Linked DNA regions of Homo sapiens. The protein of the gene in region 2 interacts with the protein of the main gene of each other region in a biochemical or structural test. Each region holds a gene or a part of one and is shown on either strand. Other genes may lie near its edges.

Evidence for each region.
Region 1: the proteins of GPRASP1 (region 2) and HTR7 form a complex in vitro, tested with the Homo sapiens proteins (one study listed by BioGRID and IntAct).
Region 3: the proteins of GPRASP1 (region 2) and CALCR form a complex in vitro, tested with the Homo sapiens proteins (one study listed by BioGRID and IntAct).
Region 4: the proteins of GPRASP1 (region 2) and OPRM1 form a complex in vitro, tested with the Homo sapiens proteins (one study listed by BioGRID and IntAct).

Annotation. Positions count from the first base shown.
Region 1 is NC_000010.11:90,742,123-90,747,234, forward strand, and holds part of HTR7 (5-hydroxytryptamine receptor 7), read right to left. Parts: intron 1,569-5,112; coding exon 1,471-1,568; intron 407-1,470; coding exon 360-406; 3' UTR 1-359. UniProt on the Homo sapiens protein: G-protein coupled receptor for 5-hydroxytryptamine (serotonin), a biogenic hormone that functions as a neurotransmitter, a hormone and a mitogen.
Region 2 is NC_000023.11:102,657,033-102,661,195, forward strand, and holds the end of GPRASP1 (G-protein coupled receptor-associated sorting protein 1), read left to right. Parts: coding exon 1-1,069; 3' UTR 1,070-2,051; downstream 2,052-4,163. UniProt on the Homo sapiens protein: Modulates lysosomal sorting and functional down-regulation of a variety of G-protein coupled receptors. Targets receptors for degradation in lysosomes via its interaction with BECN2.
Region 3 is NC_000007.14:93,423,808-93,428,919, reverse strand, and holds the end of CALCR (calcitonin receptor isoform 2 precursor), read left to right. Parts: intron 1-2,330; coding exon 2,331-2,564; 3' UTR 2,565-4,434; downstream 4,435-5,112. UniProt on the Homo sapiens protein: G protein-coupled receptor activated by ligand peptides amylin (IAPP), calcitonin (CT/CALCA) and calcitonin gene-related peptide type 1 (CGRP1/CALCA).
Region 4 is NC_000006.12:154,083,545-154,088,656, forward strand, and holds part of OPRM1 (mu-type opioid receptor), read left to right. Parts: exon of another isoform or gene 1-167; intron 168-2,962; exon of another isoform or gene 2,963-4,260; intron 4,261-5,112. UniProt on the Homo sapiens protein: Receptor for endogenous opioids such as beta-endorphin and endomorphin. Receptor for natural and synthetic opioids including morphine, heroin, DAMGO, fentanyl, etorphine, buprenorphin and methadone.

The sequences.
Region 1 (5,112 bases), on a different chromosome or scaffold from region 2:
CCTAGACTCAGAAGCATGGGAAGTGTGCACTGGAACTTTCTCCCACTTGCATGGATTTGGACATATGCAAAGCACCAGAAACTGCTTCCTTTCTGGAACTCAGTTCTGTTGGTGTGCTTACTGCTGAGATGATCTGCTATCTTAAACTGAGAACACACAATAGCACTGATCCACAGAAAAAAGGAGAAGTCACCATCTCCCTCATAAGATAGTGTGTACAACAGATCACCCTGTTTGTCATGTTTTAGACATCCCAAGAAAGGACAGAAGCTGCATTCCATTCTGCAGACTCAGCAAATGACTTCCTTCTGTTTCCACCTCTATTTTGCCTTGTTTATTTCATCTCCATTGTTCTGCTTTCAATCATGAATCATGACCTTTTTTTCTACAGTAGTCAGCATTTTGTCTAAAAAAAAGAGAGAGAAAAATAGAAAATAATTTAGTAGAACTGTAAATGTGAGTTTTCATTTTGTGGTAGGTGGACTTAATTTTTACAGCAGTCAGTAATTTGAATCATTTGTGGCTTTTAAGGGATTATGAGTATCCTTCAAGGGAAAGAAAAAGTGTTGTGACTCTTTTCATAAATTTCATAACTTCCACAAGTTGCCAAGGCTTTAATATATTTGCAAATCAGCCCCAAATAACCCATTTAGAAATTCACCTTTTTAATACAGCTATAGCAAAAAATGACTTTGCTCTCAAAAATCCTTGCAAAATACTATTGCACCTGCCCCACTTGAAAAGAATAATGACTAAATAATGATTACCAATGAGACGTGCTCTCTCCCTCAAACCTAGGAAGGTGTGTTATTGTAAGGTATGTGTGTAGGGACCAAGAAACTTCACTTCTCTCCCTCGTTCCTAGATGCTCAGAAGTGGCATTAGTGATAGAGAAGTGTCAGCCAAGGGCTGAGAAAAAGTCCCTTTCTCCTGGTGTAAAGCCACTCCCCTGACTCTGCACCTCCACAGGCCTCAACTTACCACACTACATCATGTGCCTAAGAGCTAGGTCTATGAGGACCCAGAGACTGGGACTGTGCCCCTAATCTCCACCTACCCACCCCATCTAAAGCACCCCCTACCCTGCCATTTGGCTGTCTTGCCTGCAGTCCTGCTCTTCCTTCTTTGAGGTCCCCCTCTCAGCCCAGCCCTTCAGATGGGTGATCAATAGATGGATTTTGCTGGAGACATGGTTTCTAGCTTTTCCCCTCAGCCTCACACAATAACACCTGAGGACAAGTACTGCACTTCAGCCCAGACTCAGCACTCTAGGCTCCACGTATCTGAAGAGGGGACTGGCAACCATCTGTGCTCCACAGACACATTCCTAGCCCAGGGCCACTGTCTCTTCCCAGCACAGGAGAGACAGTGCTTTCTCCAGCTCAGCACGGCTCTGCTCACATAGTTCATGTTCTGAATTCCTCCAGACCACAGCACTATCTCCAAAGTCTCCCTTTCCTTGCTACCCACCTGCTAACCAATTGTGATGGTCTGGAGATTGTAGCACCCACACAGATACCGGTGGCCTCTTTTCTGGTCTCAACAGCACCCTCCTTGTGCAGGCCCTCCTGCAATTTATGGCAATTCAAAGCAAATCCATAAGTAAATCAAATTTTAAAAGAAAAAAAGAATCCTTGATTATATTTCATTATCATATTTGGTTTTATATTACCAATCTGTGAATACTTGTGAAAAGGATTAAAATTGATAGCAGTAAATTAAAATTACCAGTGCAAAAGTATTCACAGCTTTTCCTCCATCTATTCACTTCATTACCCCAGGGAAAATTTTCGAGTGCCTGATGAACTCCTGAGGTTCTGGTTATGCTGATCAAGAAAATGGGGAGAAATGGGTAAATATTTGGGAGTAGGAACAGTCTTACAGGTTTGTACAGGAAAGAAAGAAACTATTATGTAGGAGAATACGTAGAGCCAAGAAGGCAGAGCAAGGCGAAAAGGTAAGAGAGACTAGAAGCCCAGAAGCTAGATGGGAGGAAAAGAGCTGGAGAAAGCCCTGAGTCTGGAGGAGTCCAGAATCTGCACGGTGGCCACAAGATGAGTGAGAGCTAGAGAGAGGCAGGGGGAGCAAAGGGTTCTGATTACAAGTCTCCTACTAGCCACCACCACCTCTGCAGCCACCCCAGCACACTAGATTAAAAGCTTCCAGAGACTTCAACTGTCCCTTACTCATCTTTCTACCCTACCATGCCTGGTTCCATGCTTTGTACATAGCAGACCCTCAAATGTTTCTGGGAAAAACAAGCCAATGAAGAGACTCCTTACATCCATTTTCTACATTTGGAGTTATCCACACAGTGCTACTGCATCAGTCTTGACCATTTTGATGACTCCATTCCCCTACTTGCAGATTCACTGATCCTACTTGCAGATTCACTGATGGCTTACTACTACAGAGTGTCCCACATTTAGCATTAAGGATTAGGTACTTCTTTGTTGGGGGGTGGGCGGGGGGTTGCTGGCCTGTATACTGTAAAATCCTTAAGAGCAGCCCTGGCCTCTACCCAGTAGATGCCAGTAGTGTGCCACCCAGACTTGTGACAACCAAAAATCCCTCCAGAAATGGCCAAATGGCTACAGAGAGTTGGGATGGGAGGCAAAATTACTCCTGATTAAGAACCATTTGTCAATATTAAAAGTCCAAATTCTTGGAGCTAGCATAGAAGAGCCTTTATAATTTCATCTCAATCTACTTTTCTGCTTTGATCTCTAACAGTTCCTGCACCCAAATGCTTAGCTTCAGCCAGATGGTCCTTTGTATAAGCTCCCACATTGGTGCCTTTACAAAAAAAGTCCTCTTCACCTAGAATACCATTTCTGCTCTCCTTTCACTATAAATGCTTTGACCAACTTCATAGACATGCTTGAGTTCATATCCTTCAGGAAGTCTTCTCTGATTAGGGTTAGTGTAAGCTCTGAGTTATTTTCCTTTCCTTTGAATCCCATAGTTTTTCCTGTCTCCACCTTTCCTTATTACAGAAAGGTTGCCATGTGCATATGTCTTAGCCTAGCCAGGCTGCTATAACAAAATCCCATAAATTGGTAGCTTATAAACAACAGAAATTTATTTCTTATAGTTTGAGAGGCTGAGAAATCCAAGATTAAGCCACCAATAGATTCCATGTCTGGTGAGGGCTCGCTGTCTGCTTCATAGATGGTAACTTCTAGCTGCTTCCTTACATGGTAGAAGGTATGAACAAGCTCCCTCAGGCCTCTTTTATAAGGGCAATAATCCCATTCATGAGGGCCCTGCCCCCATGACCTAATTACCTCCTAAAGAATCCACATTTTCATAGTATTGCATTGGGAATTTGGTTTCAAAATATGAATTTTGCAGGAGACACAAACATTCAGGCCATAGCAACATATGTCTGTTTGTGTAAGGTATATCCAACAAAATTATGTGCATAAGGACATGAAAGATATCATCTGTTTTCTGTATCTTCCTCAATGCATGGCAGCCATATTAGAAATTTCCTAAAGTTGATGGATATTTTTAGGCTAATCGTCCTTAATGAAGTAGATATTCTGTAATTATAAATTCAAACTGAGAGAAATGCAAAGAAGATACAGCAGACTATGGCCTGTTGGCCAAATACAACTGGCAGCCCCTTTTTGTAAATAAAGTTTTATTGGTACACGGGCCTATCTGTTTACTTATGTCAGTGACAAATTACTCATCAGTGAGATGAGTAGTTTCAATAGAGACCATATGGCTAGCAAAGCTTAAAATATTTACCACTTGGCCCTTCACAGTTAAAGTTTGCTGACCTCTGTCTTAAGCTTACAGGAAAACAACACCCAAGCCTCCAGACTAGCTAAAGATACAAAGGCAAATATCTTTAGACTTTATGTTAGCTGATTTATTTTTATAAAAGGCACAGTAGCATAGAAGTTAAAAGCACTTTTGAACACAGATGTCCTGGGCTCAAATCCAGCTCTATCACTCTCTATATGACTGTGGGGGAAATCATTTGACTTCTCCACGCCCTTGTTTTGTTATTTTCAGAATGGAAATGAAGAAAACTAACCTATCATAAACTTTTGAGGATTAATTGATCAAATTCACATAAAGTGCTCAGCAAAGTGTCTGAGAGTGAATCCTCAGCAAACGCATGTTATTATTTTAAACTGGAAAACCTTTTTGTGCTACATTTTAAAGATTACCATTTTATGATCTATCTGAATTATCTATGAATCATTAACTAAAATAATCAATAAAATGATTCTCAAGTTTTTTGACCCTATGGATGCATGCAAATATAGCAGTGTTTCCTTGCTCATGACTTTATCTGTTCTTTCCTACTTTATACACTGGCTGCTTAACTGGATCCCCTGCCACCCATCTTTCCCTTGTCTGCCCTCCTCACTATTGCCAGAGAGACCTTCCCATGTTACTCCTGAGAACTAAAACCAACACGCTTTCCTTTTCCTGTGCTAAAAAATGCTGCAGCCAGGCAAAATAACCTAGCTATTTGTTCTAGGAAATAGTCACTTTCAGAAGACTATATGCCAACAAAAATAGCCTACTTATCAAGACTAGTTTGCTCATTAACACTCACTTCACAGCCCTCATCTAGCTGTACTTACCAGTCTAAAGCTATTATGTCATAAACTCTGCCTAATCCTCACCAGTTCCCTACCTTCAAATCACCCAGCCCAAGCCCCAAAACCCTATCAATATCCTTGCCTTATTTCCTTCATCTGAGAAACTACTAAGACTGTCTAGGAGTGGATACCACTCGTAGTGCAGTAAGTCTAATAAACTTTACTTACTTAGAGTAACAATTCATTCTCATTGTCTTCTTAGAGAGCTTATGGCTAGTCTCCAGCTCAAAAATATTCTGAGACTCTTCACTGCCTATATACTGAAGTCACTTGACAAGTATAACTGCATAACATTCAATACAAGCATCGGGGTGATTCATATCACAGCTACCACTTAGGGACTGTGTGAACATAGGTCAGTTACTTTTGTTCCTGAGCCTTAAGTTGTTCTTCTGAAAAGTGGGGATGCTAGAAGCACCTATTTTGCAGGTAGCATGCTGCATAGCATGTAGCGGGTGTTCAATAATGGTTAGCAGTTATTACTTTT
Region 2 (4,163 bases):
CAGGCCTCAGAGTTGGGAGGAGGTCACTGTTCAGTTCAAGCCTGGTCCATGGGGTAGGGTCGGCTTCCCATCTATAAGCCCCTTTAGATTTCCGAAAGAGGCAGCATCTTTATTCTGTGAAATGTTTGGGGGCAAACCCAGGAACATGGTACTTAGCCCAGAAGGGGAAGATCAGGAATCTTTGCTTCAGCCTGATCAGCCTAGTCCTGAGTTCCCATTTCAGTATGATCCTTCCTACAGGTCAGTCCAGGAAATTCGAGAGCATCTTAGGGCCAAGGAGAGTACAGAGCCTGAGAGTTCATCCTGTAACTGCATACAATGTGAGCTGAAAATTGGTTCTGAAGAGTTTGAAGAACTCCTTTTATTAATGGAAAAAATTCGGGATCCTTTTATTCATGAAATATCTAAAATCGCAATGGGTATGAGAAGTGCTTCTCAATTTACCCGAGATTTCATTCGAGATTCAGGTGTTGTCTCACTTATTGAAACCTTGCTTAATTATCCGTCCTCCCGAGTTAGAACAAGTTTTTTGGAAAATATGATTCGCATGGCCCCACCTTATCCGAATCTAAACATAATTCAGACATACATATGTAAAGTGTGTGAGGAAACCCTTGCTTATAGCGTGGATTCCCCGGAACAGCTGTCTGGAATAAGGATGATTAGACATCTCACTACTACTACTGACTATCACACACTGGTTGCCAATTATATGTCTGGGTTTCTCTCCTTATTAGCTACAGGCAATGCCAAAACAAGGTTTCATGTTTTGAAAATGCTACTGAATTTGTCTGAAAATCTTTTCATGACAAAAGAACTACTCAGTGCTGAAGCAGTGTCAGAATTTATAGGCCTCTTTAACAGGGAAGAGACAAATGACAATATTCAAATTGTTCTTGCAATATTTGAGAATATTGGCAACAATATCAAAAAAGAAACAGTGTTCTCTGATGATGATTTCAATATTGAGCCGCTTATTTCTGCATTCCACAAAGTTGAGAAATTTGCTAAGGAACTGCAAGGCAAAACAGACAATCAAAATGACCCTGAAGGGGACCAAGAAAATTAGTAATGGTTAATTGCTGGCCTCAGATTGTCCTTATGTTCCTGAGTTATGATCCTTGAGTAATGCTTTGATTTTAATAGTTGGTTCTGTGTTGCAACATATATCTTTAGTGCTGACACTAACTTTGTCCAACTCTGTCTGTAAGCTGGAGCATTTTTCTGATGCCAGCTGAATATTAGAGCTGAAAACACATTTGTTGATATTTGTCTTGTCCACATTGTGATGTTCAGTATTTGAGCTTATAGTGAACTGAGCAATCATAAATAAGCCACCCTTCTGATTGTCGTTCTACTGTATATATATATATATTTGAGTGTTGTTTGTGTTTCAATAAAGTCCTATGTTAAAGTTGGCAGAAATCACCCTTCTTCTTGAAATTAAAATACAGACCCAATGATAACACATGAACACACATAGAGATAATTAATATATGAATAATATGTTCCTTTCAAAAGTTTTTTTCTCAGCTTTAAACGCAAAAATTACCAGGGGCTGCTATGTAGGGCATACTTCAGAGAAAAAGTAGCTACTTCGGTTGGACTCTGAAGTTTGGGAAAGATATTGGTGGTGTAAAAAAAAAAAAAAGCATGGAGTTAGGAAAAATTTTCCTATGGGAGTGAGGTATCCTGTTTGCCTAGAGTGAGTGAGAGGAATATATTGAGCAACATAGAGGATGACATAAGTTTTAAAGAGCTGAGGATTTGCATTTTACAGCTCAAAGTACAACTGCTGCTTCCATACTACCTAAAGGGCAAAAGAATAAGACAGGAAAGCATAGGGATTTGATTGAGTCAGGAAGACAATTTAATCATGATGGTACCATGGTAAGTGTTAAGGCAACATCATACAGCCATTAAACATGATGATGTATAGGGTTTTAGGAAAAGCCCTGACATTTTTGATATTTCATATAATAGAGAACACTGGTGTCATACATGGGAAGTATGATCCCATTTGAAAAATAAATGTGAATAAATTGACCAAACTCATGTGAAGTGTATATTATTTAATAATAGAAAATTCTACAATGATATAAAATGTATCAAAGGAATGAAGAGGTAAGAGAGACTACAATTTCAGAAGAACTGGCTTGTCAATTAAAAATGAAAAATTAAAAATTATTTAAAGGACCAAACTGTAAAATTACCAAAGTTCCTGAGTTCATCCCACATGTATTTTTACATTTAAAAAGGTTGGAACATATATGTTCAGACAGTAGCAAGAGACAGGGATAAAGTCGGTTTGGGGAGAGAGTCCAGGATAACAGGAAATATGCAAAGTTTTATTTTCTCAGGAAAAAAAAATAGATACAGTGACCCTTTTACATTTGGTTTGCCTCAGGATGCAAAGGCTTTTTCCCACCTGATCTTATTTCTCATTACTTCCTATTTCTGGTTCATTATAAATGATATAAATTAAATTCCAATATGATGTTAGTTTGCTAAGGTTTACGAAAGCAGGGCAAAGTGGCAGTTTTGCCTCCCTTCACAAATCAAAAATTTTAACAGGGATCATCCTGGTGGTGCAAATTGGAGTTTGAATGTTTGTTTTGCTTACCAGCATTTTTCAAGACAGATCTTGCGTGTGTTTTAGTATGTCGCTCTAGTCGTATACAAAATATCACAAATCACTTCATCTCCCCAATCCTCATCGAATGTTCCTCGCCAGCCCAGTGGTCCTCCAGAGCAAAGCCCGGCCTTCCTTCCAGCTGTCTGGGCCAGGAGCTTGAGGGTCTTCTAGCAAGCACCCCGGAGGCTGTCTTCTGACTGTCATGCAGGGCTGTGGCAAACTAGCTGACTGCGCAGTCACGTGGAGGGGGGAGGGGCTGACGGTGGGTCATGTGACCAGGCTCTGGGTTGAGCCGGCCTAGAGGAGTGTTTTCTTACACCCAGAAAGTACAGGAAAGGCAGACGACAACTGTGCTCCGCAGAGCGGGAGGTGGGGGGAACGGCGGAATATTAAGGTGGGTAGGTGTCTCTCCATGCTTCATCAGCCTGAAAACTAATTTCTCAGGCGACCGGAATTACAGCATTTCTTGGTAGAGGAAACTATCCCTCAGCCAACCGCTAGCGGTCTTAGACGGTCTGTCTTTTGTCCAGGAGCTCAAGAAGCAGAGACTCTACCTGCCCTAGGCGTTCGTGAAGAGAAGCAGCTGTTGCTATTGGAGGAGGTGGGTGCAAGGACGGCAGATGCCATCCCTGAGAGGCGGTGACTGAGACTAGATGCGGGTACAGGTAGTGCCTCGGATCCCCGGGCTGCCTCCTGCCTTTTGAACATCCCAGGGGTCCCAACCCAGCGCCCTGTGTTTCTATGTGTGGGTGGGAGAGGTGGGCATATGGATGGAGTTGGCTTCAGGGGAGCCCAGAGAGGGGAAATGGTGAAGTGACAATTCGTGAACACGTGTGGTGCTGGATCAGGAAAGGTAAGGGTGGGGATGGGAACCATGGACTATGCTACTGCTGTCTTCCTCCCACCAAGTAGGCACTCACTCTGCTCTCTGTCTGTCTGTTTACTGGCAGTATTCAGGCAGTGGGGATGGCTGATACCAGCTCAAAACTGGCGGAGGGTGGAGGAGGGCAGAAGAGAACACATACATCTGCCTTTTGCTCCAAGGCTCCAGCTGGCTGGGGATGCAAGAGAGGAATGAACCTCAATCCAGGCAGTTCTAGGAAAAGAAGGAGGAGACATAGACTCGAGGGGAGGAAACCTAGATGCTGTGGGCCCTTCACTTAGGATTTCTCATTAGGATACTCCAAGCTTCTCGACCCCCAAGGGGATTCCTGGATCTCAGCCCCATGCAGCAGGATCTCATTCCCATTGAGGGACACAAAGTGGGTTGCTGCTCCATGTGATGCTCTCTCTCCCTGCTGTCTTGGGCCTTAGAGGAGGGTCTGGGGACCACCTACAGAAACTGCTTCATGGATAGTCTCATAGGTTCCCCTCTGCATACCCTTTGCTCTCTTGTGTTGTGATCTCTGCTCATTCCTTAGGACGTGTTTCTTTGGTCCCATTCCAGGTAGCAGCCCCATGGTAAGTCCTTCTCCTCTTTCACATTGAGTATTCTCCTTTCCCCCTGCCCCATGCATCCACTGGGTAC
Region 3 (5,112 bases), on a different chromosome or scaffold from region 2:
ACTCTAAACTCATAACTGCCTGCTTGGATACTTGTAAATATCTGTGTAAGTTTCAGCTACAAGGATAATCTTGGTATTTAAGAGATGCTGAATCCGTGGAAATTATCAGCTTCCTTTTTTTTTTTTTTTTTTTGAGACGGAGTCTCGCTCTGTTCCCCAAACTGGAGTGCAGTGGCATGATCTCGGCTCACTGCAAGCTCCGCCTCCCAGGTTCATGCCATTCTCCTGCCTCAGCCTCCTGAGTAGCTGGGACTACAGGCGCCGGCTAATTCTTAGTATTTTTAGTAGAGACAGGGTTTCACCGTGTTAGCCAGGATGGTCTCGATCTCCTGATCTCATGATCTGCCCGCCTCGGCCTCCCAAAGTGCTGGGATTACAGGCATGAGCCACCACGACCGGCCTATCAGCTTCCTTTGACTGGAGACATTGCTTCTCCAAAAATGTGCTGAACCTGTATATTTCCCAGTTTCTCAATGGGGCATTTGATGGTTCCTAGATTATAACCCTGGCATTTAAAGCTACGGTAATAGTACCACCCAAATAAAGCCAGGCTCTGCTTGGTACTGTGGCTTTGCCACATTCTAGCTATATGATTTTGGACACATTGCATAACCTCAGTGCCCCATCCATAAAGTGAAGATAGTAGTGCCCTTCCCATAGGGCTGTTGTGAGGATTAAATAAGTTAATACAAATCACATACTTATGATACGGTACTTAGTAAACACTCAATAAACAGCTGAAACTTGTTATTCTATCTTTTGTTCTTGCGTGGCTTTTTTCAATACAACTTTCAGCTGCATGGTCCACCTTATTCCTTAGCACTTAAAGTTTTTGTCTTTGTCCGTTTTAAATCACTTTAGATATAAAGTACCCTTCATGCAAGCACTCATTAACCCCAAAACAAAATAAAACAAAACTCAGGATGTGTTGCCTCCATAATCTGAAAAGTCTAATATTCCAAATTATCAGATTGCTAAATAATTCTGATTGCCATTTGTCACCTCGAACCTTACGGTTGCTGTGCTGTGTGAAGATAAACTACCCCCTTTAGTTGCTTTTTGAGGAATCATTTGACTTTGTCTTTCTCTGAGTAAAATCTTTAAAAATATATGAACAATACTAATTATTCTCAGAGGAGATTATTACTCTACTAGATACAGGAAAAAAAAAGTATATTTGCCACAGAACCATTCAGCCTTATATTATACATATAGTTTTATAACATTAATCAGTTTTGCTGTCATTTTTCTCATCTCTCAGATTTGTACAAATGTAAAGTAGATAAAATGATTCCCCATGATCAAGTAGTTACATGATTTAGTTCACATTATATATTCCCCAGGTTCTCTCTCATGTGTTTAGCTGTCATATGTGAGTTTGGCAGCAGAATGAACTAAGGATGTATCATAAATTGATGCAAATATTTTTATGTAAGCTTGTTGTATGTACTGAGCAATAGAAACTCAGAAATACAGAATAGAGATTATTGCAATAATCTCTTTTTTAGTTTTGTTCAGCTATAGAGAAAAGCAAGAAGTTTGGAGACAACAGGAAGGAGGAACTTAACTACTAAATTGAATTCGTTTCTATAAAAAGCAGAGCTAGACAAGCAAATTCACTGTCTGTGGTACTGTTTTCAGTTGTGGTTATTGTAGTTTTCATATTTAGAGCTTTCTGATGTTAGCATCTTTGCCTCTTGTTTTCAATATATAATTTATCGTATTTATAAAACAAGTCTGGCAAGTTTGTTTACATTTTAGAAGTCTTTCAAAAGAAAGAGAAAATCTTATTCTTAAAAAGTTGTCATGGCATTAACCAGAGATGTATCTGGCATAACCCATCTCAAGTCATGTCGGACAAGGAAAAGTTCACTGTACGAGGCCATTATCATAAAATCCAGAACTGTGCTATGGTTTACATATATATTTTTCATGTGCACACTTAAATTAAAAACTTCTGCCTTATCAGGGATGGTAGCATATAAAAAGTTTGGTCAACCTTTCTCCCTATTATGACATGTATACCACATTACCTGTGAAACCAAATCAACTTTTATTCATTGGATATGAAAGCTAAAGAAACCTTTTCTTAAAACTAGCAAACAACCTTGCCAGGGGTAATTTAAGCAAGTAACTCAGTTCTTCCATTTGCAAATTCTTCTTCCAAGTTGATATATTCTGTGGCCACAGCATACACAGCCCAGCCCTTTAGATCAGAATTACAATTTAACTTTCTTTAAATCTGATAAGCTCTAAGAACGATGTTCGTACACTTTGCATGGATCATTTCTGACTATCATATAAAAACAAGGCTCCTTTTTCTCTTCCAGGTCCAAACCACCGTGAAGCGCCAATGGGCCCAATTCAAAATTCAGTGGAACCAGCGTTGGGGGAGGCGCCCCTCCAACCGCTCTGCTCGCGCTGCAGCCGCTGCTGCGGAGGCTGGCGACATCCCAATTTACATCTGCCATCAGGAGCTGAGGAATGAACCAGCCAACAACCAAGGCGAGGAGAGTGCTGAGATCATCCCTTTGAATATCATAGAGCAAGAGTCATCTGCTTGAATGTGAAGCAAACACAGCATCGTGATCACTGAGCCATCATTTCCTGGGAGAAAGACCATGCATTTAAAGTATTCTCCATCCTCCCAGGAACCGAACATATCATTTGTGAAGAATTATTCAGTGAATTTGTCCATTGTAAATCTGAAGAAAGTTATTCTTGGTACTGTTGCTTTGGGAGACAGTCTAGGAATGGAGTCTCCCACTGCAACTTGTGAACTCCATCATTCATCCAGGACTGAGATGCAAATGTCACAGTAATGCAAGCAAAGTATCAAAGAAAAACAATGAAATTGACCTAGTTCAGATACAGGGTGCTCCTTGTCAATACTGAGCCATTTATACCTTTGAAATATTAAAATCACTGTCAATATTTTTATTTTTAACTCTGGATTTTGAATTAGATTATTTCTGTATTTGGCTATGGATCTGATTTTTAATTTTTTTAAATTTCAGTCAATTCTGATGTTACTGAGATGTTTTACCATCCTTACAATGTAAACCACATGAACTACGTGACCTCTGCAAGACAAAGCGGCTTTCTAATAGAGAGATTAGTAAATATGTGAAGAAAAAGACCTGCATTTGGCAGGAAGATGTATGCTTTGAATGCAAAAGAAATTTAGAGTCAATTTGCTGAAAACATTACATGCTCAGCTTGGTTTTGGACAAGCCTGTCCATTGGGCAGGACCTAGCTGTTGTAAAGAATTGGTCTTAATGTTGAATGTATTTTGGTTGCTGATGTTTATAAACTGAGAGGTCACAAAGAATCTATCACTAAAAATTTTTACAAAACTGCCAAAAATATAATTCTTAGTGGAAGACAATACTCCCTTTAAAGAGAGTTTGCCACTCCCCTAAACTCCAGGATTTATAAAGCAAATTACTCCAAGGTTTATAAAGCAGATTACCTCTTGCCCTTGGGTGCTATCTAGCAGTAAAAGATAAATTTGTTGAATATTGGTAATTAAAAGACTCCACATAAGTCCATTAACTGCTTTCCACCCAGCTTCAAAGCTTAAAAAGAGCTCAGGCTTTTCCAGGAAGATCCAGGAGGGCTAATTAGAAATCAACTTGTGGTTGACCGCTTGTTTCTTGTTATTACCAAAACAGGAGGGGAAAAAATTAACTGCTCCAAATTTAACCATAAATCAATTCATGTTTAACGTTTCTCATTAAAATCCAGTATTATATTATCATATCTCTCTTTACTTCCCAGTATAAGATTTTTGAAAATCCTGAATAAACCAGTATCGTTACTGGCACCTGAAATTAATTTGTGAATTTGCAACAGTAATCAGAGTTACCATTATTTAATTTGTATGCTAAATGAGGAGGTACATTGAAACCCTCCAAATCTCCAGTCTCATCTATGTCATATTTTGCCACTGCCTTTCAGAAGTGATTTAGTTGTGGAAAGATAATAAATTGATTTGTTATGGTTACATATTTAGCGCACCCAGAGAAAATTAATTATATTTCTACAGAGAAAATGAATTTGGGATACTAAAGTAGTTTAAGTCTCCTTTACTGAATGTAAGGGGGGGATCGAAAAGAAGGTATTTTTCCAATCACAGTGTTATGTAGTATTGTTCTATTTTTGTTTACAAACATGGAAAACAGAGTATTTCTGGCAGCTGTGGTACAAATGTGATAATATATTGCTAAAATATTTTAGATGTTATTATGCTAATATAGTAGGGGTTGAAGAAAACAAAATAGCTTATTATAGAATTGCACATAGTTCTGCCCAAATTATGTGAAATGCTTATGCTTGTGTATATGTATAAATTAATACAGAGTACGTTAAAAGCAAAAAGATGTATATTTGCATATTTTTCTAAAGAAATATATTATTCATCTTTTCATTCATTCATCTCGTCTCCTGCTCATTCCATGCTGTTTTTGATTTCAGCCATGGGCTGCTACCATCCCATCTCATTTGTACTGTAGGAGTGGGAAAGATAATCTAAAAGCATAGGTTAGAAACCATACACAAAAATATCAAGGTTATTATCTTTATTAGTACAAACATCTTTAGTCTCAATTTGATTGTAAATTCAGTGACACTGTTCTCATGCCCTTGATAACACAAAACCACACACCAGTGTCAATCAATATTGCATAGGTTTAGGAAGCACAGCAAAGAAATCAAGTGTAAGAAAGTATTATATCCTTTTATTGTTCTTGTTTTTTTATTCATTATTCTGGGACCAGACTTGATCTGTCCAATATCACATCAGATCCTTAGAATTGTTACAATCAATCATTGGCTTTTAATATAGTTTGGAAGAGAGACTAAGGCTAGACGAAAGGCAACCAATTAACTATCATTAGAATGCATAAAGCCCACCATTGGAAGGATTTTCAGATCTGGAAAGCATGAAATGGAAAAAATGAGGATTAAATGAGAACTCTGATGGACTAAAAAGGGGAAGAGGCGCAATTTGTAGATTCTTCTCATTACGTGAGAACATCCAAAATTGTGGCCTCATGAGATCTGGGAAACTTCTTCCAAAAGGATATGTAAGGATTACATCTTTCCCTTAC
Region 4 (5,112 bases), on a different chromosome or scaffold from region 2:
ATGGTTTGTCATCGGGGGACCCGAAGGAAGAAGAAAGCAGAGAAGATTGGGAGAGGACAAAAGAGCGAGAGGATGTGGAGAGAAAGGGTGACATGCTACCAAGAAGACTGATAGTCAGCCGGGTGCGATGGCTCACGCCTGTAATCCTGGCACTTTGGGAGGCCAAGGTGGGTGGATCACGAGGTCAGGAGATCGAGACCATCCTGGCTACGACACGGTGAAACCCCGTCTCTACTAAAAATACAAAAAATTAGCCGGGCTTGGTGGCGGACGCCTGTAGTCCCAGCTACTCGGAAGGCTGAGGCAGGAGAATGGCGTGAACCCGGGAGGCGGAGCTTGCAGTGAGCCGAGATCGCGCCACTGCACTCCAGCCTGGGCGACAAAGGGAGACTCCGTCTCAAAAAAAAAAAAAAAAAAAAAAAAAAGGAAGAAGACTGATATTCATCCCACTCTGGTGACACACAGGAATGGAAACGGCCACTTGCCCTCTGGATGGAAATGCCTCTTTGCTTAATTTCATACAGGCCTCTCCCCGTCTTCTCTTTTTGAGGTAAACTAGCAAGCAATAGTTCCTTTCCCGTCGCAGGATTCAGAGGTCTGCTATCACCACTCTTTTCCTTTGCTGATAGTAGCTTATTAGAAATGTCATTAACTACATAACGTCACCTTGAAATAAATGTAAATTAAATGTTTCACAACATTTTATAGCAAAGTGAGAAGTCCTCCATTCTCCCCTTCACTAAGCTAGTGGAGAATATAATACAAAATAGCAACCTAATATATAGTCTTTCTCCATGTTAATGCCAATGAGAGGATAATCACTAGTTTTGATTATGCTTTTTCTTATTTTAGAACCTCCCCCCCCAACAGACAGACAGACACACACACACACACTCACAAGTAAAAACGCACCTGGGATATCAGAATGGAATAGATGGATAATAATGGATCAATTAACTCAGGTAGATACTCATTTGACCATATTCTTTGCCTAAATAATTACTTGAAATGTAGGAAAGTATCTTTATCTCATTGGATTGATCCAATTAAATATGAGTATTAAAGTATGACACTCTAGGGAGGATTTTTTTCTCGACTAAAAAGGTTAATTTCTATGTGAGGGTAAGTGGACATAAAAGTCATGGCAAATGCAAGAAATATATCTTTCCAAGCACATTGCTGAACATATAAAAGGGGCTTGTTGAATTCTTACTGAATTAGGTATCTTTCTTCACACTACTTGGTAAAAAAAATGAAAAGGCAGAAAAATTAGCCCCAAAAGAGATGAAACTCTTCCGTCCATCACCATTGACTCTATTGTGAACTTATGAAAAAGGTAGTTGAGCAATATGAAGGCCATGATGTGGAATTAAACACACACACACACACACACACACACACACACACATGCTGGATTCTAAAATGTGTCCTTCCTCCTCTCACTCTCTTGATCAGTTTTATTTCTGAACTGAGACACGATCACCACAATTCAAATAATTAACCACAAAACTAAACAGAAGTTTACAAAACCCATCAGGTGTACAGAGGTAATTTATTTAGTCTGGCTTCACTTAACACAAATAGGTCAAAAGCAATCACATTTTGTAAGTAGTAATAGTTGGAGAAATGTGTGAAGAATAGGTCAAAAGATAAATAAGAATTATTTTATAACCATAAGAAAGGAAGAACATCTATAAACAAAAGTCATATATGCAACATAAAAGAATAGGTGAGCTGCCAGCAAATGGGCCTCACAATGCCTTTTCCCCAACACTTCTGGAAGTTCCATAAAAATCACTCTAATGGGTCAAACATCGATGGTTCTCAGAAGAACACAATTTTTTTCAAAAACGAATAGCATTGTAAATTCATTTGAATTCATAAAACAAAAGAGCTATTTAATCATCTAGACCAAAGTTAAAGAAATACCTACTACAAAAATTTTAATGGGATAATTAGAAAGAAATAGCTTGGGCCACTGCTTCGAGCAGAAGATGGAGTTCAGTGGCTACCATAGGAAGGGTCAATATCAGGATGGCCTGTGAGTCCAGATGAGTCTCTCTTTGCCCATTTTGCCACAGAACACATTCACAGCACAGTACAAAGCAGTAGGCATGGAGTAAGGAAAAAGGCTTGTGTTTTAATAGCCAGGAGTTCTACTCGGACCCACTCAGGTAAACTGAATGGCAAAGATAATTCTTCCTGCAGGTCATTTCTTTTGCTAGTTTGCTAACTCTGAGTCCTATGCTCCTGTGCAAGGCCCATGATGTGACTCTGAGCATTCATTGAACTTTGCTGGGACAACATTCATGCCACCACATCAGAACAGAATGAAAGCTTGCCCTTTTTTTTTTTTTTTTTGAGACAGTGTCTCTCTCTGTTGCTCAGGCTGGAATGCAGTGGTACGATTCTCCTGCCTCAGCCTCCCAAGTAGCTGGGATTGCAGGTGCCTGCCACCACCCCCAGCTAATTTTTCTAATTTTAGTAGAGACAGGGTTGACCAGGCTGGTCTCCTTCCCCTGCCCTCAAGTGATCCATTCACCTCAGCCTCCCAAAGTGCTGGGATTATAGGCTTGAGCCACCAGGCCCAGCCCACATTACTCCTTTTCTGATTAGACCATCTCTTCAGATTAAAGCCTTTGGGTATATGCTGGAGGCAATTGGAATTCTTAATCCTTTAGCTTTGTATAATTTTCTTTCACATATTTAGAAGATCGTTGAGCCCCCTTTTATATGTTGCTGTGATCCAAAGCATGAGTAACTGGGGTAAGAATGCTGGCTATCTTTAGAGGAAGACTTTTTAAATAAATTGAGAAAAATTAAACAGCATCATTCCTATAAAATGCCCGTTGAAAGAATTTTTATAGATAAATATTCACTTTTTTTTGGTAAATTGATGATAAAATTATGTATATTTACCATATACAACATGATGTTTTGAAATGTATACACATTGTGGAATGGCTAGCATGCTAATTAACTATGCATAACCACGTTTCCTTTCACCATGTTGAACCCTGACATAATTTTTTTTTCCACAAACACCTCACTCTGGAGAAGGAAATGATTTTTTTTAATTAAAATAAACATACATTGGAAATACTTAGTGCTAAAATAAGCCTGAAGGAAAGGTTGGAAGTATGATGAGTCAGAAAACTGACTGTAAAGAAACCAATTACTTAACATAAAACACCATTAAAGATAAGCCACGAAATGTAAGGTCTGCTGGGTAGGAAAGTGGCAAATGCAATGAAGCATGTCTTTAGATCATGCAGGTCTATAACCAACGGTGAATCTAGCAAAAGTTATTTTCTCTTTTGGGGAGAAACTTCTTCTTATTAAAAAAATAAAAAATGTTTCAACTTCTTGAGCACCAAGGTCAATTATTCTAAATCTTAAAACCACAGTTTTAATTTTGCTTTTTTGTTGGTTTTTGTACTTTGGAGTATTTGTCTACATTATCCTTTTTATATTTGCCATATTTAAAGTCCAAACTAAAAGCAAATTATTTTCTCTCCTCAAGTTAAATGGCTCTATCTTTTTCTTTAAAATCCATTAAGAAAGTGAAACTCCCAAAGTAAGTCCAAAAAAAAGCCCCCAAGTCTGAAAATGTGGAGCTTTTCTGGCAGTAATGCAGCTTCTGCAAGTATTGCAGACCAGATCAGGTATCAGAATTTTAAAGCTTCAGTAACAAAGCTGTCCTATTGACCCTGAGGAGATTTATGAAATCACTTTCCTGATGTTATTGAAACCAAAACACTTTCCTGGACACTGAATTCAGTCCTAAACAAAGGGCCTCCAACCAACAGCTGTCTTGGGCTGAATGAGTTAGACTCAACCTCGTGTGACGGAAAAACAGTAAACACAAGCTAACATTTAAAAGGAATTGATGGCACCGTGTAAATCAGAAGCCCAAGGAGGGCCTGGCTTCAGGTGTGGGGTTCTCTCTCACGCTCTCAAATCCACATCCTCCGGATTAGGTCCATTTTCAGACAAGCTCCTCCAGCAACTACATACCATGCGTCTTCTCAGGTGTGGGTCCTGCAGGAAAACTAATACACTCTTTGTCCATAAGTCTCAAAATAAACTCTCACTGGCTCTGGTTGGAACATGAGAGCATCCTTGCCATTCACCATGGCCCCGGTCACTAAACGTCTTCACGCCCTGGACTGGTAATACAGCCTATCCCAAAGCACCTGGACTGAGAACGGGAAATGAGTGGTTCCCAGAGTGAAACTGAGGTACTATTACTAAATTAAGGTAAATATATGTGGAATGTTAAAAAAAAAATGATGTCCAATGTTTACAAGGTATACTTCTGCCATCAGATATAATGTATTATTGCAAGTGTACCTGCTTATATTCTACTATCATATTTCTAATTTCTGCAGGCCTTGAAAACATATAACACTCCTAGATACTTACCCAGGAGGAAGAAAAGCATATGTTTATATAAAGACTTGCACATGAATGTTCGTAACAGTTCATTTGTAACATCCAAAAGTTGTATGCAACTCAGTTCCCATTAATAGGTGAATGGATTAAAAAAAAAAACAGATGAATGCATAAGTAATACTACTTGTCAATAACAAGGAATTAATTCTTGTTATATGCAACCACATAGATGAATCTCAAAATAATGACACTGAGTGAAAGAAGCAGCACAAAAAAAGAGTACATACTGAATGATTCTATTTGCATCTTCTAGGAAATGCAAACTAATCTATAAGAACAGAAAGCAAACCAAGATCAGCAATTGCCTGAGGAATAGTGAGGGTTGGATATGAGGACAGGGAGGGGCAAACAGGAAAGATTAAAGAGCTACACAAAGACACTTTTGGGAGCAATTGATGTCATTATCTTCATCAGAGGTTGACATTTTTTTCTGTAAAGTGCAAGATAGTAAATAACTTAGGCTTTGCATGTCATCTGATCTCTGTTGCAATTATTGAACTTTGCCATTGTAGCATCAAAACACTTATGGGTTTTTAAATAGGTGTATTTATTTATAAAACAGGCAACGGTCCAATTGGGTCTACACACCATAGTTTGCCAATCTCTGATCTTAATTATGGTGGTGGTTTCACAGGTGTACACACGTATCAAAGCTTA